6 linked regions of the Homo sapiens genome follow. The protein of the gene in region 1 purifies or fractionates together with the protein of each later gene. This does not show direct contact. Each region holds a gene or a part of one and is shown on either strand. Other genes may lie near its edges.

Region 1 (3,911 bases):
GAATTGCTCCAATAGAAGCGTCTCTCAATCTGCTCATCAAATCTAGATCAGCTCTACCAGTGAAAACAAATTTCAAGATTTGTTTCATAATAAGTGTTAAATCTCATACAATCGAGCTATGTCATGCCACATAAGTTCTAAAGCAAATGAAAAACAAAGCCAGCCAAATTTAGGAGCTGAGCTCATGGTATAACACTTATAAAGAAATGAAAATAACACAAATTGAAAACTATAGTGACCATCTTGGGTACGACATGCAATGATACTATCACTACTATTTTGACAGCATGACAACTGAATAATTAGAAGATACACATGCATACCACTATTTCTCTATTAAGAACACATACATCTCATATAAATACATCCTCAGGAAACACTTTTTACATTAAATCGTTTTTTGACAATAATTTTGCACTGAATAACAATACATTACAACTCACTGTTGTACACCTTCAATTGCTAAAACGGTATTCTAGATGTTTACACAGAGAATTATAGGAATATGCACGAGCACTTCAAGAAAAGTTGTGTGAACAATGTTTAAAGTAAAAAAGTGTTTTATAACCAAGCTGTACGGACATTAGGGGGTTTAGGTCTTCTTCGAGGGTGGCCACTGGAGGGGTCAACCGCTGATCGCTCACTCCTACAACTGAGACCACTCGTAGCACTGGATGTCCTGGAAGCTCCTGAAAATATAAAAAGAAGAAATATCTGAGAAACTTCTCCTCACTTGAAGTCCAGACTAGTTTTTCTTCCACATTCTATGTGTGTCTAATAGTCTAATGCTATGATTCTCGACTAGGATGCACTTCAGAATTCCCTGTGGAAGTTAAAAAATATAATAACAAACATATCCAGATGCCACACCAGGGGATTTTGATTCACTGGATTGGCGTGGAAAACAAACATTTTTAAAAGCTTCTCAAATAATTCACGTGAAAAAAATGACTTTGTATAACCATTTATATATCTAATCAACAAATAACTTACTACATTTAGGGACAATGCTAAGTATGAGTTACTAAAATAAGACCCTTTCTTAGTCACTATACCACGGAAGCAAGGTTTGGAGAAGGAATAAATGGAACTACTAGTCTTGAGAGTTGAAGACTCACGAGGGCGGGCGCTGGGAAGTTGTGGCATCGGGCGGTTTGGTATTCCCTTCTATTTATTATATGGTTTAGAATGCATACATGAAGTACAGCAGAGACTTCTGTAAAGGACACTGGCCTTTCTAGATGTTGCACACTCCAGCACTAAATGGTCACTCCATTCCTGTACTCTCTGGGGCACACAGCTGGCTAGGTCTGTAACTGATCACACAACAAGCCTTACTGCTTACTGTAAAGCGGTAAGGCTTGTTGTGTGATCAGCTTGCTAATTTTTGTTTTAGTTATCCAGTAAGTAAGAAAAAGCACATATAAGGGCTGGAGGCTATTAGCAATGATTCTTAACTACCTAAGGAGAATGTTTTAGCAGCTTTTAAACAGCACACCTATGTATTTCTTCCTTCAATAAACTTTGAAATTAACAGTCCTTCCTCAATTACCTAAGAACCTACTGATATTTTTGATTGTTTTATCTCCTGGTTTCCTTCCTGTCATTATATGCTGTAAATGAAACCTGAAATTAAGTGAACTAATACAAATAAAACAAAACATGACAGTGGGAAATAACAGAACGCATTCCAGAGTTGGCATTTAAAACTCTATCATAATAACATGTTACGTTTTTTTAAAAAAAGGATACAAGATACAAATAAGTATAAAATAATTTCCAAAATGCTTACTTAATGGGCTATATTGGCCAAGAGTGGATCTGGCCCGTCTTGACAATGGTGATGAGTTGAGATAGCCCATATTGCGATGATAGTCCATCAGTTGTTCTGAACGTTTCATACCAACTGTTGGTTTCACGGCCTCAAGCCTTTTCAATAAAGCCTTCAATAAAGACAATTAATTTGAAAGGCAAGGTTAAACAGCAATCATTTTTAACAAGGCAATACATTCTAGAGCCTGACATTCACTTTCTTTCTTTTTTTTTTTAAGAGACAAGATCTTACTCTGTCACTCAGGCTGGCCTGGAACTCCTGGGCTTAAAGGATCCTCCCATCTCAGCCTCTCAAGTAGCTGGTATTACAGGTGCCACCCACCACATCCCGCCAAAAGATCTTAAATCATTCTCGACATACCATGTGAAAAACATTTCAAATAATATAATTTCATAAAAATCCAAGGGTTTTTGCCTATCCCACAGCTAACCAAACCACTGTGATATAACAATTCATCCAGAGGTGTCCAATGGAGAGAATACAGTCATGGGTTCTTAGTTTCTGTTTCTGGTTGGGCCAGTAAAGCCCCTTCCTCATCTCTCTTTTCTGCATATCACTAGAGACAGAAACTAAAAACCATGGCTTCAGGCTGCTAAAAGCCTAAAACAGAACAACAACAACAAACAACAAAATAAGGTAGGTTAGACAAGCTTGCTAGAGGCCTAATTCTTTTGTGCCAGGTTAGTCTTAGGAAAGGTGCTGTAAGTTGAAATAAAATACACTAAACCTGATTTTCTCATAGACATGATGTAATAGGAGTTATAATGCTAAGAACCTAGTGTTAGACCCTAGGAATGAGCACACACATATGGAAGCTACTACAGATTCTCCACATGTACATTGCAGAGCAGTGCCTTTCACCCTGTTCCTTTGCAGTAGTGCCTCAAGGGCTTGTAGGCCACTGGGGAAAGGCCAGCAGGGAGGGCCCTCGGGTCTTCCACTGCTAGTTTCTACTAGCCCAGCTATGCTTTCTGTATTGTCTGTTTTATATACTAAAGATTCTGCATAACATTTAATTTGGAGAAAAAAGCTTTTGCTGTTAAGAAGTCTGAAAACCAATTAGTATAGAATATAAAGTTTTTAAAAAGATATGTAGCCTGGGCACAGTGGCTCACACCTGTAGTCCCAGCACTTTGGGGAGCCCGGGGCGGGTGGATGACCTGCTTGAGTTCAGGAGTTCCAGACCAGCCTGGACAACATGGCGAAACGCTATCTCCATTTTAATAATATTTTAATAAATTTTAAAAAAGGATATATATACCAATTGGCCAAGGCAACACAGTATCCAATAACATGGTAATTTTTTTTACAATTCAGTAACAGAGACTCATGCAGAATGTTATAAATTTTGTTTATAACTATTTCTTAAAAGGTGAAAGAGTTTATCCTGTTGGCTTTTCGTAGGCATTGTTGAGAAAGAAATACCGAGGTAGACCAAACAGCTTGGGGAATTGATCCATGATTGTGTTTTATTCTTTTCTTTACTCATTCAAACTTTCTCTGAAGGAAGCTGATCTTATTTGCAAAGGGAGTACTGACCTGCACTAAGTTTCACACTAAAAAATCAGACTCATGAATTCAGTCATAGGACAAGTTTTCTCTGTACAATCTTTTCTTCTTTCTTCCTTTTACTGTGGTAAAATGAAACCACATTTTAACCACTTCTAAGCATACAGTTCTGTGGCATTTTGTACACCCACACTGTTGTGAAACATCACCACCGACTCCCATAACTTTTCTTCCACTTGGTGTTTTATCAGTTTCACCCCCTGCCCTTCCATGCTGAGTTCCTGAGCAATTCCAAAGAAGGAACAGATGGTGGAAGAATAAGCCAAGATATCCAGGGGAAGGGCCACTTAGAAAAGGGAGAGGAGGAGGTTGTTATAGAAACAAAAGGAGGCTTGGAGGCAAACAGCAGAGGTGCAAAACACATGAAGAACCGGACAGAACCACTGAGAACATCTTTACTGCCTCCCTGCATGCTATTCCTTCTGCGTGAAGTGCCCCTTCCTAATTTTTGGCCTTCAAAAGCTAGAAAAGAGTCACCTACTCAAATTACCCAACTAGTATTAGTGGT
Region 2 (3,501 bases), on another chromosome or scaffold:
ATAGGCATGTGCCACCACACCCCACTAGTTTGTGTGTGTGTGTTTGAGACAGAGTCCCGCTCTGTCACCGGGGCTGGAGTGCAGTGGCGTGATCTCGGCTCACTGCAACCTCCGCCTCCCGGGTAGCTGGGATTATAGGTGTGCACCACCATGCCCAGCTCATTTTTGTGTTTTTAGTAGAGATGGGGTTTCACAATGTTGGCCAGGCTGGTCCTGAACTCCTGGCCCTAAGCGGTCCGCCAGCCTCGGCCTCCCAAAGTGCTGGGATTACAGGTGTAATTTGGCCACTGTACCTGGCCAAATTTTTGTTATTGTTTGTAGACGGGGTCTCACTATGGTGCCCATGCTGGTCTGCTTTCCTTTGTATGTGTAACTCAGCCTTAGCTAGGCAGATCTTCCTAACTCAGGCAACAGAGATGATTTTCCCTGCTTTTATCTCTTAAAATCCTACTCATTCTTCACAGCCTGGCTTAGGCAGCGTAGGGGATAAGGAAGGCCAGGAGTTTTCGAGTGACCGAGGCTGAGTGCTCTCGCCTGCAATGAGACTGTAATATCCTTGTATCATGAAGTCACAGTATAAAGCAAATAGATAACCTTGTCTACATTCTTGGCTCTGGTTATTTTCCCTTTCCATCCCTTTAACATTTGTTGAACCAAAATGCTCTGTGTACCCCCACACATTCTAAAATTCACGCAAATTGTAGTTTATGTAAAAATTTATTTGACCAAAATGTAGAAAAAGTGATACTATTACATATGATACAGTTGCAAGAATCTAAAGTGTGGATTTTATTCCATTGCACAATTTGCTAGTGTATTTCCTGGGTAGTGTGGTGCTGAATAAATAGGAGTAGGGTGGTGGGGTGGGGTGGGTAAGGGATTCAGATAAGCCAGAAGCAGGGTGATTTTTAGTTGGAATTGTAAACTTTAGTCAGCCCCCACACGCTGCTGGGGAATGTGGAATGTTCTAGCTCTGAGATGTTAACTGAGAAAAGAGAAGTCAAACAAAGCCGATACGTGCAGCCCTGTCTACAGAATCCTTCATTATCCAGTTTAATCAGGAGTTTCTTGGTCTTTTATTAACTTGGTCCCAAAGAAGGAATTCAAGTCCTAGATAAGTAAATCCTCAATTTGCTGTTCCCTGAAGTATGGAAATGAAGTTGGGCCAGTTTTTAATCTCTGCTGCCAGAGAGGCCCTTTCTGCTAATAGATAAAAACTCTTTTGCTCAACTTAGTAATGACTTGTGGTCTTTTGGATATGGCTGACCTGAATTGGACTGAACTCCACCATATTCCTGCTGAGTGGGTCATTACTGGAATGAGACATTTGCTCTTCAGAGAACAACTTTATTTTTATTTTTTCTTGAGATGGAGTCTCACTCTGTCGACCAGGCTGGAGCGCTGTGGTGCGATATCGGCTCACTGCAGTCTCCACTTCCTGGGTTCAAGCGATCCTCCTGCCTCAGCCTCCCGAGTAGCTGGGACTACAGGCAGGCGTCACCATAATTTTTGTATTTTTAGTAGAGACATGGTTTCGCCATGTTGGCTGGGCTGGTCTCGAACTCCTGACCTCAAGTGATCTGTCCTGGCCTCCCAAAGTGTTGGGATTACAGGCGAAAGCCAACGCTCCCGGCCAGGGAACAACTTTAGAATGAAGGAAATATGCAAAAGAACATCACATCAAGGATCAATTAATTACCATCTATTAATTACTATATGTGGGTAATTATGACTATTTCCCAAGCATTCTACGTTGACTGCTTGAGAAGATGTTTGTCCTGCATGGTGGAGAGTGGAGAAGGGCCAGGATTCTTAGGTTGATCTATCTGTGGGTTATGACTTCCCACAATAGCCACCCCCGGCCCCCACCAGTCCTTTTATTGGCTCTGGATGGAAAATCCCTACCCATGTGATGGTCCCTGGTCTCTCCTATAGTTTGACCAACAGTTGACCCAAAAGGTTATGGTCTTCAGCGTTTTAATTATATCCACGACTAGATACTGGGGTCTGTATTCTTCAAAGTGTGGGGCTGCCTATTCTCCCAGGAACCAAATGGCCTCCGTCTTAAGAAAGTATGCTTACTAGGAAATACCCTGCCTACCTTAGGAATAAATGCTACTTAAGGAAAAAATAAGAGAGCTGAAAAAGCTGGTGCCATTTGAAAAAAAAAGGGAAGGAATGAGATTTAACTGGTGCTCAAAGCTTCTCCGATACAAAATATTTGGTCATGTATTCATAATTTGCTTGACATTTCCAGCAAAGCGAAGATGGCAATAACAAAAGGAACTTCTTACAAGAGAAGAGAAAGACCCACGGAGCTCCAGAGTTTCTGTTGGAACAAGACTCTTCTGTTTTGCTTATATACAGTTAAGTTCGTTTAGTGTCTGATCCAGTGTCTGATGTAAGCCCACGTTCTCTTCTTTGGCCTGGGCAAGTTTCTCTGGTGAGGATTAAGAGTATGGGGAAAGATAAATTAATAAGCGTCTTTGTTAAATGAAAGAAAAAAAAAGATTTGTTTTTTTTTCTTCTTCTTGAGACAGGGTCTCATTCTGTCACCCAGGCTGGAGTGCAGTGGCGCGATCTTGGCTCACTGCAACCTTCACCTGCCAGGCTCAAGCAATTCTCCTGCCTCAGCCTCCCGAGTAGCTGGGATTACAGACGCGTGCCACCACCACCCGGCTAATTTTTGTATTTTTAGTAGAGATGGGGTTTCACCATGTTAGCCAGGCTGGTCTCGAGCTCTTGACCTCAAGTGATCCACCCACCTTGGCCTCCTAAAGTGCTGGGATTACAGGTGTGAGCCACCATGCCCAGCACCCCCCCAAAGATTTCTAAACCTGAAACTGCCAGGGTGAAAGTCACAAGAGAGAAAGTACTTTTTTTTTGAGACAGGGTCTCACTCTGTTGTCCAGGCTGAAGTGCAGTGGCGTAATCACGAATCACCGTAGCCTTGACCTCCCTGGGCTCAGGTGATCCTCCCACCTCAGCCTCCCGCATAGCTGGGACTGCAGGTGCATGCCACCACCTGGCCAATTTTTGCATTTTTTCTAGAGACAGGGTCTCACCATGTTACCCAGGCTGGTCTTGAGCTCCTGGGCTCAAGGAACCCATCTGCTCAGCCTCCCAAAGTGCTGGGAATACAGGTGGGTTATAGCCACCATGCCTGTCCAGTACTTTGTATTTTTAATTACAGCAGAACATCACAGAATACTAAGGAACAAGCACCAAATTTGGGAGTCACAGTTGTAAGATAAAATGCAGGGCGCCCAGTTAAATTGAATTTCAGATAAACCACAAATAATATTTTAGTGTAAGTATATCCCAAATGTTGCATGAGATGTACTTATGCAAGAGATATACTTATGATTAAAAAATTATTCATTGCTTATCTGAAACTCAGATTTAAGTTGGTGTCCTGTATTTTTCCTTGTGAACTCTGGTAACCCTTGAGTCAGAATACCTGAACTTAAGCTCCAGTTGTATCACTTAAGTAAGCATCTA
Region 3 (3,410 bases), on another chromosome or scaffold:
AGCCTGACATTCCCAGTCGGGAGGGAACGAAGACATGTGCCCCCCAAGGCAGGGGGTGGCCAGGTATAGGACAGCAGGACCTTCTAGAGAGTCCAAGAGGAAAGTTCTGAGTGGACCCTGGGAAGGGACATGTGTACCCCATCTAAAATGGCCTGTGTCCTTCCAATGCATGGTATCCCCAAGAGGGGCCCAGACCTGGGCCCGCCCTGAGGAATGAGGATGTAGTACTGCCTGGAGTAGCTAACACTGAGGTCTGGGGAAGTCACCACAAAGCTCCCGGAACCTGGATTTTGTACAAATACACACACGGAAAAGTAAACAGTTCATGGTGAGCTCAAAGAGGCCCACCCTTAAATCTAACAAGAAGCCAAAAGCCCCTGCACTGTTTTCCAAGGAAACATGTCCACTCCCTCCAACCAGCAACCATGTATGGAGAAGGAATGGGGGCAGCGGAAGGACACGGCTCAGATGGAGACACTGCGAACGTGTTTCCACGGCTGTCTACATTCATATCATCATCATCCAGTGTTCTCGCCTAAAGAGTGACACAACATTCTACCAACGCGCCTGAAGGACAGGCCAAGCTGAACGGAAGCCTTCCCTGGCACCAGAGCAGAAGGGAAAACTTGCATGTGGTCGTAAAGGACTTCGCACTATTCCATCCCCTCTACTGCCATCCAAGGGGCATCTTGACTCTTCCAAAATCAGATGTAAAAAACAAGGTCAGTAAAATCAGTATCCATGCCACCTGAAGCTATGATTAGCCACTGTGCACGAACATGGCACTTTTAAAGAGATTTTTTTCTAAGTAAAATGGCCCCCAAAGAGCCCAATGATTTTTTTTAAGGGTTTCTTTTTAATTAAAAAAAAATGGGTCAAAATGGAAGATGTAAAATATGGGAAGAGGGGCAAGAGAGTTGCTGGGTTTGCATTATAAGCTGTGAGGGGCTGGGGAGGGCACAACCAGGGAGAGAGGACCCCTAACCTCTGGTCCCTGCCCTCACAGCTTGCTCTCCCCACACTCAGGCTGCCCCGCCGGGGCACATAGGACAGAAGTTGTAAGTACAAGAGACCAAACTCAAGGCTTCTTTCTTGCGGTTGGGTGGGTGTTTACGTGTGCAAATGTAGTAAGCCACTCCCCACGGACATAAGGTGCCTGTCTGTGGATGCCATAGGCGTGCTCCCAAGTATTGCTCAGTCCCAAGGGTGCCCATCGCTCAGCCTCTGGTGACCCCGAATCTCTGGGCAGGTCACGGGCCTTCACTTCTCCACTTTCTTTGCTTTCTTGAGGATGTCGCATTTTTTCCTGTTGGGGCGGCGGCACCTCTCATCGATGCTGGGGATACATTCGTAGTGCCACACCTCCTCCATCTTCTCCACCGGGTAGACGGCTTCCACGTAGTGGCGGATGAGCCGCAGCCGCGTGGGGTCCAGTTGCTTCTTGTTGCAAGCCCCGGAATGGTTGTACTGCAGCCGGAGGTTCTCGGCGGTGAAGAGTTCGGGAAACAGGCGGACGAGGAGCCGGGCGGCAAAGTTGCCCACGGAGAGGCTCTGCTGCACGATCTCACGCACCTCCTTGTCAGACAGCAGGTAGGGAGAAGGCACCGGGAAGTCAGGCGAGGGGACCACCAGCTCGTCCAAGGGGATCTTGCAAAAGTCCTTGCTGCTCCTCTCGGGGGGCAGTGGGGGCCCCTCAAACTCCTCCCGGAACCTCTCGGGGTTGATTGCATAGCTGGTCAAGTCTCTGCACTCAGGGCCCGGCACGTGGACCTTGCGCTGCTGCTGGTAGGAGCGCCTTTGCTCCGTGTCCCGGCGCCGGCAGCGCTCATCCAGTTTGCCCACGAACTCCAGGGTCCAGACGCGGTCGTTTTTGGCGCGTGGGTAGAGCAGCTGCACGTAGTGGCGGATGAGCTTGATGCGGGAGGGGTCCAGCTGCTTCTTGCCCAGGGAGCCGCTGCAGTTGTACTGCTTGCGCAGGTTCTCGTGCGTGAAGAGCTCGGGGAACAGGTGCACCAGCAGGCGCGAGGCGAAGTTGCCGATGGACAGGCTGCTCTCGTAGATGCTGCGTAGCTGCTCCTTGCTGAGCAGGCAGTCGGCACCGGGCACCTCGAAGTCAGGCTGGGGGATCTCTAACTTGTCGAAGTCGATGGGCACCAGCCAGATCTTCTTGGAGCGGCGACCCGGCCGCTCGCCCTCGAAGCTGTCCTCCACCTTGACCACTGAGATGTCGTCGGGCAGACTGGAGGAGTCGTAGCAGTCATCACGCGGGGGGTCGCCTTCACTGCCCGCGTCCAGCCCCAGGCCCTCGAGCTCGTCGTTGATGCGCTGGGCACACTGCTGCAGCCAGGCCTCCTCCTCCTGCATGTCAGGGAAGTAGATCTCCGTGTAGTTGCGGATGATCTGCAGCCGCTGCGGGTCCAGCTCCTGCTTTCCACCGTCCCCGTAGCAGCTGTACTGTTCACCCAGCTTGCGGTGGTCGAAGAGCTCGGGGAAGAGCCGGTGGAGGAGGAAGACGGCAAACTCGCCTGGTGAGGAGGCTTCGTCCAGGAACTCAGTGAGGTCCTGCGTGTCCACCACGTGGTCTGAGGCGATGGTGCTGCTCCGGTCAAGAGACAGGGCCTCCTCCTGGTCTTTGTTGTCCAGGAAGTGGCCGGGGTCCACCTGCTCTGCCTCAAAGAAGCTGGCGACCTGGCCGCTGGGCTGGCTGTCCTCCATTTCCCGCTGGGCCCAGAAGCGGCTGAAGAAGTCGTTCAGCTGGGGCAGGCACTCGGCCTGCCACACAGCCGTGTCCTTCACCGAGGGGTAGTAGACCTCCACATAGTTGCGGATGAGCTGCAGGTGCAGCGACTCCAGCTTGCGCTTGGCCGCAAAGCCACAGGCACTGCAGCCCCGGGAGAAGTCCACGTCGCTGAAGAGCTCGGGGAAGAGCTGCACCAGCAAGCGGCAGGCCAGGTCCCCCCCTGACAGGCTCTGGTCCACGATCTGCTTGAGCTCTGCGGCTGTGAGCTGGTACTCAGGGGGCGGCTGGAATTTGGCCACCATCTCAGTGGGGCTCACCTGCTTCTTGATGCGGCTCACCTCAAGGGAGAGCAGGTCCACCTTGCTGTGCAGCTGGGACATGTTGGACGTGAGGGTGTTCAGCATGTAGAACATCTTCTGGATCAGGAAGTAGATGTTGGGGTCGTTGTCAGTGCCTGCCCCGGTGCTGCCACAGTCCCGCTTCTGTGGCTCATTCAGGAGCCGCAGTGACGAGGGGCTGTTGCTGGCGTTTGCCTTCTCAAAGAGCTCGTACACGTTTAGCAGGTCCCCCGAGGGAGGATTCTTCTTCTCCATGATCTTGTGCGAGATGCCATACAGAGGCTTCTTGTAGGAAGGGGTGGTGGCATCGTTGCAGGGCTCCTCCTCTCCAG
Region 4 (3,993 bases), on another chromosome or scaffold:
TATATAGGACAGGATAGCAAAAACAAAGAATAAAGCAGAAGTCTCTCAGTACCAACAAATAACTCTGTGGTTGCAGTTCTTCAGAACACAACATACGCTACATGGTGTTAAAGGTAATGTCATTCACAAGTGACACCTATTTATTACTCAAGTAAACGACTTTGCATAACACAAGCCCAAGTCTCTTCTTGTCCTTGAACTTTATCTGAATATAAAGAAAATCCCTAGTCCTAAGCAGGCAAGCTAGGTTAGACACTGCAATAAACCAAGCTTCTGGTGAGTGCAAAATGATTTTCTTCCAGGCTGAAGAATGATACACCAAGGCCAGGCATGGTGGCTCACGTCTATAATCCCAGCACTTTGGGAGGCCCACGTGGGAGAATCACTTGAGCCCAGGAATTCAAGACCAGCTTGGGCAACATGGTGAAATCCCATCTCTACAAAAACATACAAAAATTAGCTGGGTGTGGTGGCATGCGCCTGTAGTCCCAGATACTCAGGAGGCTGAGCAGGAGGATGGTTTGAGCCCGGGAGATTGACAGGTCAAGGCTACACTGAGCTGTGACTGCGCCACTGCACTCTAGCCTGGGAGAGAGAGAGAGAGAGAGAGAGACAGAGAGACAGAGAGACAGAGAGAGAGAGAGAGAGAGAGAGAGAGAGACAGAGAGAGAGAGAGAGAGAGAGACAGAGAGACAGAGAGAGAGAGAGAGGCAGAGAGAGAGAGAGACAGAGAGAGAGAGACAGAGAGAGAGAGAGACAGAGAGAGAGAGAGAGAGAGAGAGAGAGAGAGAGAGAGAGAGAGAGAGACCGACCTTGTCTCAAAAAAAAAAAAAAAAATGACACACCAAGGTAGCCTGCTTTGCTTTGCAAGGGTTACTACCTGTGCAGGCACAGAGCTAAACTCAGTCAGATTTCTATTTTTACAGGTCTCCAACAGAGATGATTACATGATTACATTTGGGACCATTCAGTATAAAAGACTAACACATCCCAGAGACTGGCTGCAGCACCAACAGCAAAGCATCTCATTTTTCTTTTTGCTACTTCAGATACATCAGACTTCCAGACAAGCAAAGGGCCTCAAGAACACTGAATTAACTTTGTGGCTCTCACCAGATGGTACTGATTGCTCTTGAGTTGTCACCAGTGTGCACAAAAGCATACGCTTTGATCCACACAGAGAGCCAGTCCAAGTTAGGCACGGTTTGGATCACATTCATTGTCATGGATGCCACCTCTGCCCCTTTTACAGAAAGGGACAACAAGCCTAAACCAACAGAAAGCAGAAGAAAGAAAGTAAGGCACGATATCTCTCTTCCACATGCAAGGAGCAACGGGCTACATCTTCCCTTGGCTAAAAGGCAACTGCTTCCCTATTCTGAGCGATGCATGAGAGAAAAACCATAATTTAGTATTTCTTTTCTTTTTGAGACAGTGTCTTGTTCTGTCCCCCTGGGCTGGAATGCAGTGGCACAATCTCAGCTCACTGCAACCTCTGCCTCCTGGGTTCAAGCGATACTCATGCCCCAGCCTTCCGAGAAGCTGGGACTACAGGCACGCGCCACCATGCCTGGCTAATTTTTGTATTTTTAGTAGAGACGGGGTTGTGCCATGTTGCCCAGGCTGGTCTCGACCTGCTGAGCTCAGGCAATCCACCCACCTCAGCCTCCCAAGGTGCTAGAATTACAGGTGTAAGCCACCATGCCCGGCCAAAAACCATAATTAAGTATTTCTTGATTGAATATGTGACAACAGGAATCCTACTAAATCACTCTCTTCAGGGGAACTTTTAAAAAAAATAAAGTTATTCTAATGTACAGGCAAGATTGAGAACTACTATCTTTGACAGTAAACATGCCATGAAAACAGGCAGGAAATATCTCTACCTAGAATGGCATCAAGGGCTAATGGGCACTGCCTCAGCACCTCCTTATAGCTGGTGACTGAAGGGCGCTCCTGACCAGCCTTCTTGTACAGGTTTGCCAGCATCATGTTTATCTGTACAAACACAAATAACAGATAGCAAAATAAGCGTATATTGCAAAGAAAATCTCTCACCATGAAAAAGTCCTAATTTTCATTACCAGTTATTTACTTTTTACTGGAAAATCTACCCACAACCCTGTGCAAATAAAGGCAGACTGACCCCATTCTTCAAAAGAAAGAAGAAATTGGCCAGGTGCAGTGGCTCACGCCTGTAATCCCAGCACTTTGGGAGGCCGAGGTGGGTGGATCACGAGGTCAGGAGATTGAGACCATCCCGGCTAACACAGTGAAACCCCGTCTCTACTAAAAAATACAAAAAAATTAGCTGGGCGTGGTGGCGGGAGCCTGTAGTCCCAGCTACTCGGGAGGCTGAGGCAGGAGAATGGTGTGAAACCGGGAGGCGGAGCTTGCAGTGAACCGACATCACGCCACTGCACTCCAGCCTGGGCTACAGAGTGAGACTCCATCTTAAAAAAAAAAAAAAAAAAAAAGAAAAGAAAAGAAATTACTACCCTTCCTTTCCCTAGCTCCTGCCTTCCCTAAGAGGAAAGTCACATTACCTTCCCACAAGGCCCAGTAATATCTGAACAAAAGACGCTGCCCTCTGGAAACTGGAATAACATTCATTTAAGAAATGGTAGAGAACGCTAGTTAACTTGATTCTTTCTTGATCTTAAAACAGAAGATGAACTATCTCACATAAGAAAGTGAGAAACTCTTGACATAGCTAGTTAAGAAGGATCAGCTCAGTTTTTCCTAATAAGGAAATGATACAGAAAGACAGATAAAGAAGTATAATACTTGGCTTTTCTTTGACAATTCGACTTGTGGCTAGACTCTAGCCTTTCTAACACTTAAGGCTTTGGCCCGTAGGTACTAACTCACTAAAGTAATGCTACAAAAATCAGCTACACTATTTAAATCCAGTGAGTGCAGACAGCTGCATTTTAGCGTAATTTAAATATGTAACTTTGTAAAGCTAAATTAAAATAATCCTACCTAACATGCAACTGGGAAATGAGAAAATCTAAAAGTTCTGGCCGGGCGCAGTGGCTCATGCCTGTAATCCCAGCACTTTGGGAGGCCGAGGTGGGTGGATTACGAGGTCAGGAGATTGAGACCATCCCGGCTAACACAGTGAAACCCCGTCTCTACTAAAAAATACAAAAAATTAGCTGGGCGTGGTGGCGGGCGCCTGTAGTCCCAGCTACTCAGGAGGCTGAGGAAGGAGAATGACGTGAACCCGGAAGGCAGAGCTTGCAGTGAGCCGAGATCGTGCCACTGCACTCCAGACTGGGAGACAGAGCGAGACTCCGTCTCAAAAAACAACAAAAAAAACCCACAAAAACAAAAAAAAAGCCAGAAAATCTAAAAGTTCCTAAGAATGTAGAAGTTATAGGCAAGTGATAAAAGACCTTCCTAATAGTACACAGATAAACACAATATTCCAATTTAAAATTAGATTTTTTTTTTTGAGACGGAGTTTCACGCTTGTCACCCAGGCTAGAGTGCGATGGCACGATCTCAGCTCACTGCAACCTCTGCCTCCTGGGTTCAAGTGATTCTCCTGCCTCAGCCTCCTGAGTAGCTGGGATTACAGGCACCCGCCACCACGCCCAGCTAATTTTTTTTTTGTATTTTAAGTAGAGATGGTGTTTCACCATGTTGGCCAGGCTGGTCTTGAACTCCTGACCTCAGGTGATCCAACCACCTCGGCCTCCCAAAGTGCTGGGATTACAGGCGTGAGCCACCGTGTCTGGCAAAATTAGTAGATTTTAAACACAACAGTATTTGCTAGATCATTAACCTAAGGAAGCAGTCAATGTGAGGGCACAAAAGAAAAAAGGTCAACCCCCAATCTCTTCGATTTAACTGTGGCTTGGTATGCCAGATATTTATAGAAAGAGTGGCTCTAAAGATAAAGAACATCTGTTCCAATTATAGACCTACATTATATAAAACAATCTAATATAGCATTGATTCACACTAATTCAAACAATGGAATAA
Region 5 (3,993 bases), on another chromosome or scaffold:
GGAAATGCAGACAGGTTTTTAGTTCTATGCTGTTTAACTGCTGTAAGTGAGAGTAGTACAATGGTCGATTTCTTGTGACAAAACTAAATAATGAAAAATAGTTTACTCTGAAGTATGCAGCTGCTTCAAATGCTGAGGACCACAACTGGTTTTGTTACAAAGGCCGCAGTGAGTGCAGGCTCACGTGCTGTGGGCCAGGGCGACCCTGCCCGTGGTGAGTCCTCCACACCTTCTAGGCAGAGTGGGTTGTACGATGCCCAAAACCTTTCACAAGAAAAGATCGGACTCACTCATAGACCTAAGGACAAATTGAATTCAGTGCTAAACCATATTGCCCCCAGTGTACACCCCCAATAAATCACTTCCCCGGAGGTCTGTTTTCACAAGTCACCTGGAGAACGCCTTTGGGGCAGTAGGGTTCACTGTGTAGGTCTTGGGGTCTCTGTTGCCAGGCAGGGTGGCTGCTGTGCAGACAAACTGAACTGGGACCCGGATATGACGATACCCATGGGTAAGGCACTATGTGAAGAGTGACTATGCTGAGACCTCTGTTTTATAAAAACACAATTCTTGAAACATCAGCACCATCGCCTGTTGAGAGTGAGATCAGGTTTGGAAGCCCTTTGACACAGGAGCTGGTTTCTTTTGGCACATGGGGTGCTGGGTAGCATTGCGACTGAAGGCTCTTTAACAAAAAGCCACCCCCTCTGAGATCTTGAGCACAAAGGGATCTGAAAGTGTAACTGGGAACAGGGCAGGCCAGCAGGCCCTTCCTGAGCTGGAAATCAGGCGAGGAGGACTCTGGTTTGATTTCCCAATTCCACAGCAAAGATTTGGGGCAAATGTGAAACAGGAATACTTGGATTCCAGAGGAAGGTGGAGGGGCACCCCATGAGGGTTATTTTAAAGATGAGAGGCAAGGTCAGAAGATAGAAATGGAATGAGGTCGGGAGAGGCTAACCAGCCCAGGGTCTTGTGACCACGACTCCTTTTACATAAGGGACAGGTGTGCCAGATTCAGACCCTCATTGTACAGCCTTGCTCCTCTGGGTGGAACAGTCCAGCAACCCTCAGTACACTCCAGGGTCTCCTGGAAGGGCAATGGCTGTCCAAGCAAAGGTCCTGGCATCTTCCGTCTCTCCTTCAGGGTTCTCCTCCTCTCCACCCTGTCCTCTCACAGCCTAGACCCCCCCCTCCCCCTGCAGTGCTCTGCCCCCTTCAAACCTACTGGCATCACCCAAGTTAGAGGAGGCAGGCGGTGGTGGAAATCTGGCCCATCTATTTTATGAGAAGGTATTGATGACTAATGATGCTTCCATGAATTAGGCCTTCGTTTTACTATAAACTATTTTTTCAACCTCAAAGAATGAATCTCTACTTGAAGCAATTTAGAGCCAAACGTGGATCTGAGAAGGAAGATCTTCCTGGGTGGGGCCCAGCCAGGATGCTCAGGGCACTCACCTGCTCAGCCCTTCCGGATGTACTCAGAAGACAGCTCCCACCCACCCGCGTGGAGCACAGCCCAAGGAGAATGCAGTGCCCGGCTTCACTGTGATTTGGTCACCTAGTGTTAAAAGCATATTAAAGTGCATGCTTCACCATAGGCACGAGTGCTAGAAAAGCTAAAGCTCTGAGAAGATCTGGCAGGGAAGGGGATAGCTACAGGTGAGCCTGCCTTACGGCATGGCGGACGCACTCATTCATCATGCGCTGCACGCACGGTTCTGCAGCACTCACTCCAGCACACGACTGTGCTGCCACGCACGTGTTAGGTGCTACGGGTTCAACAATGATAAGGCACTGTCCCTGCCCTCAAGGAGCTTACGGTCTAGGGGGGTGACATTAGACTCCCAGCCCACAGAGACACAGCTCTGGGGAGGGATGGGGAAGCTCAGTTGCTCGGTGGGTGGGGTTAGGGCCTCACCAGCTCCCTCTGGCTGCTCTTAGTGGGGAGGTCTGTGCTTGTCTGGAGTTTGTCTGGAGGCCACTGAGTATGAGACACCTGCAGTCCCTGTCTTCCTTCCCCAGCCCCCGAGGAGGAGCACAGTTCTCTTCAGGCTCATCAGTGCCAGGGGACTCTTTTCAGTGACTGATAAAATGGTCTTCCTCTTCCTCTGGTCCATAAGGAAAAGGTGTACTTTTCTGAAGCAGCAGAAACCAGCTGGGAGAAAATGAAAATTAGCCTTCAGTCTGCCTAACTCAAGCCTGCCCTCGGGCTTGTGGTAAAAACTTCATGTCGTAATCCAGGCGTGGGAGAGAGCCGTGGGGTCCACTCAGCCTGGGAATGTCCCCCGCTGGAGGGCCTCGCCCTCTGGGTCAGGTCAGAGCAGGCATCGAGGTGCCCTCTCCGGTGCCGCCGCCCCAGGCCGAGCCTCCCACTCCGGGCCCGCCTTCGGTGCGGACGGAGATCAGTGGTTCTGAGCACACTACACAATGCTACGGAGGCCTCCAGTGACACAGTATTTCCTACTCTTACACATCGGCTGACTGGATGGCCAGTAAAAAGATGCAGTGGAGGTGAGCTTTCCAGTTCATGGGAAGCTCCAAGCAGCCTGCCTGCTGCAACACGACTTTGGCCACAGGCGGGAGAGGCAGTACAAAGCTGTGTGATCTGGAGGAAGCCACAGTGTCTGAGATGGGATCTCATCTGAAACCCTGGAGCCGTGGCATTGCTTCCTTCTATGTCAAGATAACGAAAGCCCGTGGTATCAGCTGGCTTCATTCTATTCCATTCTATTTTGGCTGTTGCAGAAAAACATTCTTCTGTTCCACTGCCTTCTGTTCACAGTCTGTCAGCTCGAAACGTCTCTTCAACAGAGGGGTCCAGCAGGCCCATGCTGGAGTCACTTAACATGTTGAGTCCGTCCAGGCTCAGGGGTTCAATCTGCAGCTCCTCTTCCAGTGGAAATGGAGTGTCCACGTTCAGGCTGACCTCAGGCAGGCCTGCCAGCGCACTGTTGAGGTCTTTGAACAGGCTGGTGCTGGAGTCTTCTGAAAGGAGTGGCCAGAGGGGAAAACAGTGCGGTTAGGAGGCGCGAAGGCTCCAGGCTACTAAGCAAACCCAGCTGATGACAGTCCCCTAAACTGCTATCCCACACATCCTGACCACCCCCAGGCCCACAGTTCTTGCCCTGGAATCTACATTCTTGTCAGTCAGTTGCACAACTCCCAATTTTTGCAGGTTTTTTCCTTTTGAACAGTCATCAGTCACCTAAGATGAAATCTTTTTTTTTTTTTGGAGACTGTTGCCCAGGCTGGAGTACAGTGGCACAATCTCGGCTCACTGCAAGCTCCACCTCCTGGGTTGGTGCCATTCTGCCTCAGCCTCCCGAGTAGCTGAGACCACAGGCGCCCGCCGCCATGCCCAGCTAATTTTTTTTGTATTTTTTAGTAGAGACGGGGTTTCGCTGTGTTAGCCAGAATGGTCTCGATCTCCTGACCTGATGATCCGCCCACCTCGGCCTCCCAAAGTGCTGGGATTACAGGCGTGAGCCACCGCACTGGGCCAGATGAAATCTTTCAGAAAAGGCTTTGACTACCAGGCCCACCGCCCTGTGTCACGGTCTCTGAGGCTGGACACCTGCATCTCAAAAAGTCAAGTCGACCCAGGGAACGTTAACTTTTTGCTTTATATAATATTATGTTGTTTAAACTCTCTTATGAAGGTTCCTGAACACACAACAACATAAAAGCAGTAAAGAAGCTGAGGGATAGCTCGCTCACCTGGCAGGATGGTGTTCGGGAGACTCCCGCAGTTGGAATACGGGCTTGGTCTCAAATGAAAAGAGTCCTGCAGTTCTCGGGAACCTTGTTGCACCAGAGGCACCTGGAAGCATCGAAGGTCATGTGAGGAAGGCCACACCTCTGTTTCCAAGGAGGAAGTGAGTATTGCAATGTGCTCCCAGAGCAAAACCTGACTTGCAAACTAATCCATATTCCCTTCTTTCCAGGATCCCAGAGTGCTTTGCTCTTATGGTAATGCATGCACAATAT
Region 6 (3,993 bases), on another chromosome or scaffold:
CTTCAGCACTGAGGGCAGGGCCTGCGGTTACAGTGGAGGAGCTGGAGTGAGTGGAGGGAGGGATGAGGGCTGAGCGGCCACCACCTGTCCCCTCGGCTGTCCCCAGTCTTAGGGGCCTCCAGGGTGGCCCAGGGAGAGGAGAGGGCTTTCCAGTGAAGTCAGGAGGACTTCCTGGAGGCACAGGGTAGGGACAGTGGCAAGGGGACCATGAGGAGGCAGTGGGAGAGGGTCTTACCAGGCTCTGTGGCTCTTGGGGGATCCATGGAGGCTGCCTTGCTGCCCCCGTCGGTGTCCCCGCGGCCCCGGGCTGTCTTCCGCAGCTGGAAGCCCTTCCTGATGTCAGCCAGCAGGGCATCGATGACACACACCTCCTCCTGCTTCCCGGGCCCCTTCCTGACTGAGGAGCGTGGGGCACTCAGAGAGCGGCATGGGACCCTGGAGCCCACCTAGAGGGCTGGGGGTGGTGGGGAGGCTGGAGCACAGACAAGGATCCCAGAGTCACCCCCTCCCCGCCCAGCCGGCCCAGCCTCACCAGGCTTCCCGTCCTCTCCCCGAGGCCGCCGCGCCTCCTCCTCCGCCAGCTGCTGCTTCCTCCTCTCTGCCTTCGCCGCCTGCTCCTTCCGGTCCTTGTTCTCCTGCACTGGCAGATGTGGCCCCGTCACCCCAGCGTGGCATCCCTCAGGGGCTCCATGGGCCTGGGCGTCCCCCTCCCTGAGCCGCAGCAGCGCAGGGCCCACATGGCTGTGTCGGCCCGACGAAAGGTGCCTCTGCCCATCCTGCCGGAGGAAGGCCAGGGGCCTCGGGACCCCACTCTAGCCAGACAGGCTGTGTCCCGCCGGGCTGCCCCACCTTCAGGGCGCGGAGGAAAAGGTCCCGGAAAGCCTTCATGGTGCTGAACGTGTCCTCCAGGGACAGCTGCTGGGCGTCCTCACACAGGTAGTCGGCCAGCTCCCGTTGCTTCTGCTCGATGGCCTCAAACAGCTCATCCAGTGCCCGGAAGGCCGAGATGCTGGCCTGGGGGCAAGGGCACGTGACAGTCCCGTGAGAGCCCCGCGCGGGCACCACCCGGGGTGAGGCCCTGAGTTGCGGGAGGGTGACGGCCACAGGGACAGGCCCTGAGGACGGTGGTCTCTGACAAGGAGCAGGGGCCTGTGCCCTGACCATGCACACCTGGGGAAACTCGGGCCCCAGGATCCACCCTGGAGCCAGGAGACAGCACAGCCACTCGCCCAGCTCACTCTATCAGGGCAGCCTCTCCCGCCAGCCCCAGGCCCAGGTGCCCACTTGCCTGGAGGCGCTCGGTGTACTGCTCCTGGACCTCGGCCACGGAGGCAGACACCTTCCGCTCGGTCTCCAGAAGCTTCTTCAGGTTGGAGCTGGCCTCTGAGCGGATGATCTCCAGGTTGATCCTGAAAGGTGAGGAGGGCCGGGCAGAGACAGCAACGGCTGACGTCAGCCTCGCTGGGACAGGGGAGCCCCTCCCCTGCACCCCCCGGCACCCCACTGTGCACCCTGCAGGCTGTACTCTGAGGCTGCACGTGCAGTGTTGGGGTTGAGTGCCTGTTCCAGCTGACCCTCAGCCCCCTGTGAGCATCTGGGCGGGGACCCTAACGGTCAGCCTGTCCTGCTTGCCTAGTTCTCCCCAAGGCTGAGCAGCTCCTGAGCCAGAGAACCTTCCAGGGCAGGTGGAGCCCGGGAAGAACTCCGTGCTAGGGGCCCGGACTGTGTAGTGGGGTGGCCCAGGCTGCCCTCCTGCCTGGGTTGTGTGACCCAGGAGGTGACACTGCTTTCCTGGGCCTCCGTTTCCTCATCTATACAATGAGGGAGGCCCGAGCCTGCTCACGGCTGTCGTGAAGGTCCACCTTGTGAAGGGGCTGTATTAGACCTGCCCGTGGTGTGACCCTGACCTGGCCAGCCCTTGCCCACTCTAGGCCTGTTTCCTCGCTTAAGTCAGAAGGGGATAGGCCACGGCAGACCCGGTCCTGTCCCAAAAGGGAAGTGTTCTATTGGGCAGGGCTCCGTGGCGCCGGGGCTGCGCTGCAGCTGTGAGACCCAGCCCTGGCGGGCAGCCACCTCACTGCCTGGGGACAGAAGTCAGGCCCCCACCTGGCTGAGGTGGGCGGGCTGGCAGGAGCTACCTACCCTGCTGCTTGCGAGGGCTGTTCCAGGTCCCGGGGCAGCTGCAGGAGGTCGGGGTGGCTCTTTTCCGCTTCCTGCAATGGGACACGTCCAGTGAGATCCACTGTGGTCATACTCTCCACCTGGGGATGACCCTGTTCCCACTCCCCCAGCTCTAACCCTTAGCAATTAAGGTCCAGAAAACCCCCAGTACTCCAGACCCTCAAATCTTTCCCTTGGGCCTGGCTATGACTTTGTGATGTTTCTGCTTTTCCTAGGGACTGTCCCCCAGATCAGGGACAGGTATCCTGGGGAGGGACAAGGCTCGTGCAGGGGAGCCAGTGCTGCAGGAAGGAAGGGGTGCTGGGAGGGGTGGGGGCGTGGCTCTGACTGAGGCTGCTGGCTCTAGACGGAGCCCTGAGACAGGGAGACCGGCGGCCTGAGTGGTGGGCATGGGGGTATGGCCTCTACGCCTCTACACCCCAGGTCCGGGGGGACTTGAAGCCCTCCCATTATGCCCCCGCCACCACGGCCCACCTCCAGCACGTGGTGCAGCAGCGTCACGCGGTTCTGCTGGGACTTGGTCTCCGTGAGCTTCAGCAATGTGCTGATCTTGAAGCCGTCGGCGTCACCGGTGTGGCTGCCCTGGGAGGGGCAGGGAGTGAGTCTCACCAGCCCCTGGCACCAGGTGGGATGGGGAGCTGCCCCTGACTTACGTAGTTGAGGAAGTTCCCAATTCTCAGGATCAGCTGGCAGAAGATGGGCAGCTGGCGGCTGGTGAGCAGGCCTGCAGGGGCAGCCAGGGCTGGAGAGGGGCTCTTGGTTCGGAGCCCCCAGATGCCCTGGCGGTGGGGTGTGGTCCTGCTTGCCAGTGCCCCTGCACTCCCTGGCTCCTCCCCAGGCTCAGCCCAGCACCGGAAGGATCACAGGACAGGGCCTGGGGGCTGCAAACCCTCCACCGACGGGAGTGGACACCTACAGTGTGCCTGACAGACGTGAGCTGTGCCTCACTGGTCCGTACCTGTCCCTCTCCCTGCCCAGTGGCTGTGGCAGGTCCCCATGGATTCCCCTTTCAGAGATGGTGCCCGTGTGTGTGCACTTATGTCTGTACATGTATGTGAGGGTGTGTGTGTTGGGGGGGTGTGTACGTGTGTCTGTGTGTCCTGTGTGCATGTGTGTGACTGTGCTTGTGGGCTTGTGTGTGTGCACGTGCCCGAGTGGCGGTGTGCATGCGTGTGTGCACGTGCCTGAGTGGCGGTGTGCTTGTGTGTGCGCGTGCCGGAGAGTGGCAGTGTGCTTGTGTGTGTGCACGTGCCCGAGTGGCGGTGGGCATGCGTGTGTCTGTGCGTCCAGTAGGTGTGTGCACCGAGGTGGTGGCAGCAGGGTGGTTTCCGGAGTGGTGGTGAAGGCTGGCACCCTTAGGTGCTCTTAGCAGCCATTATGATACTGGCAGTAGCAGGGGCCCCGAGCAGCCCTCCCGCCCCGGTTCGGAGGCCTGTCCCTCCTGCACACGTGCCCCGCTTGGCCCCACTCACTTTCGCAGGCAGCCAGCACCAGCTGGGCCTTGGGCCGCACCATGTCCAGCACGGCGGCCGCGCCCTCACACAGCAGCATGCACTCGATTCGCAGCTGGTAGCTGGGGATGGCACAGACAGGGATCAGTGGCCTGCACCCCCCACCTGTCCCTGCCAGAGGGGCACTCAGCACAGGGCTCTGGCTTGGGTGGTGGGCAAAGGGAGGGGGTTTCCACCGCCTGCCCCATCCAACAGGCACCCTCCCGGGCCTGCGCAGAGCAGGATCCAATTCCTCCAGAGGCCTCCAGCCCCACACTTTGAGGGGAAGGACTGGGGGTGGGGCTCGAGTGATGTTTAGAAG

What was found.
Region 2: the proteins of CFAP97 (region 1) and TPM4 purify together in Homo sapiens (affinity purification with mass spectrometry; one large-scale study listed by BioGRID and IntAct). This does not show direct contact.
Region 3: the proteins of CFAP97 (region 1) and BEND3 purify together in Homo sapiens (affinity purification with mass spectrometry; one large-scale study listed by BioGRID and IntAct). This does not show direct contact.
Region 4: the proteins of CFAP97 (region 1) and ANAPC7 purify together in Homo sapiens (affinity purification with mass spectrometry; one large-scale study listed by BioGRID and IntAct). This does not show direct contact.
Region 5: the proteins of CFAP97 (region 1) and CRTC3 purify together in Homo sapiens (affinity purification with mass spectrometry; one large-scale study listed by BioGRID and IntAct). This does not show direct contact.
Region 6: the proteins of CFAP97 (region 1) and INF2 purify together in Homo sapiens (affinity purification with mass spectrometry; one large-scale study listed by BioGRID and IntAct). This does not show direct contact.

The regions. Positions count from the first base shown.
Region 1 is NC_000004.12:185,162,237-185,166,147, forward strand, and holds part of CFAP97 (cilia- and flagella-associated protein 97), read right to left. Parts: intron 1,944-3,911; coding exon 1,793-1,943; intron 690-1,792; coding exon 562-689; 3' UTR 1-561.
Region 2 is NC_000019.10:16,100,203-16,103,703, reverse strand, and holds the end of TPM4 (tropomyosin alpha-4 chain), read right to left. Parts: intron 2,441-3,501; coding exon 2,358-2,440; 3' UTR 702-2,357; downstream 1-701. UniProt on the Homo sapiens protein: Binds to actin filaments in muscle and non-muscle cells. Plays a central role, in association with the troponin complex, in the calcium dependent regulation of vertebrate striated muscle contraction.
Region 3 is NC_000006.12:107,067,444-107,070,853, forward strand, and holds part of BEND3 (BEN domain-containing protein 3), read right to left. Parts: coding exon 1,261-3,410; 3' UTR 1-1,260. UniProt on the Homo sapiens protein: Transcriptional repressor which associates with the NoRC (nucleolar remodeling complex) complex and plays a key role in repressing rDNA transcription.
Region 4 is NC_000012.12:110,386,626-110,390,618, forward strand, and holds part of ANAPC7 (anaphase-promoting complex subunit 7), read right to left. Parts: intron 1,999-3,993; coding exon 1,887-1,998; intron 1,268-1,886; coding exon 1,114-1,267; intron 1-1,113. UniProt on the Homo sapiens protein: Component of the anaphase promoting complex/cyclosome (APC/C), a cell cycle-regulated E3 ubiquitin ligase that controls progression through mitosis and the G1 phase of the cell cycle.
Region 5 is NC_000015.10:90,640,930-90,644,922, reverse strand, and holds part of CRTC3 (CREB-regulated transcription coactivator 3), read right to left. Parts: intron 3,882-3,993; exon of another isoform or gene 3,827-3,881; coding exon 3,724-3,826; exon of another isoform or gene 3,666-3,723; intron 2,992-3,665; coding exon 2,783-2,991; 3' UTR 1-2,782. UniProt on the Homo sapiens protein: Transcriptional coactivator for CREB1 which activates transcription through both consensus and variant cAMP response element (CRE) sites.
Region 6 is NC_000014.9:104,709,849-104,713,841, reverse strand, and holds part of INF2 (inverted formin-2), read right to left. Parts: intron 3,755-3,993; coding exon 3,654-3,754; intron 2,906-3,653; coding exon 2,835-2,905; intron 2,764-2,834; coding exon 2,656-2,763; intron 2,214-2,655; coding exon 2,143-2,213; intron 1,410-2,142; coding exon 1,289-1,409; intron 1,015-1,288; coding exon 850-1,014; intron 636-849; coding exon 533-635; intron 398-532; coding exon 236-397; intron 1-235.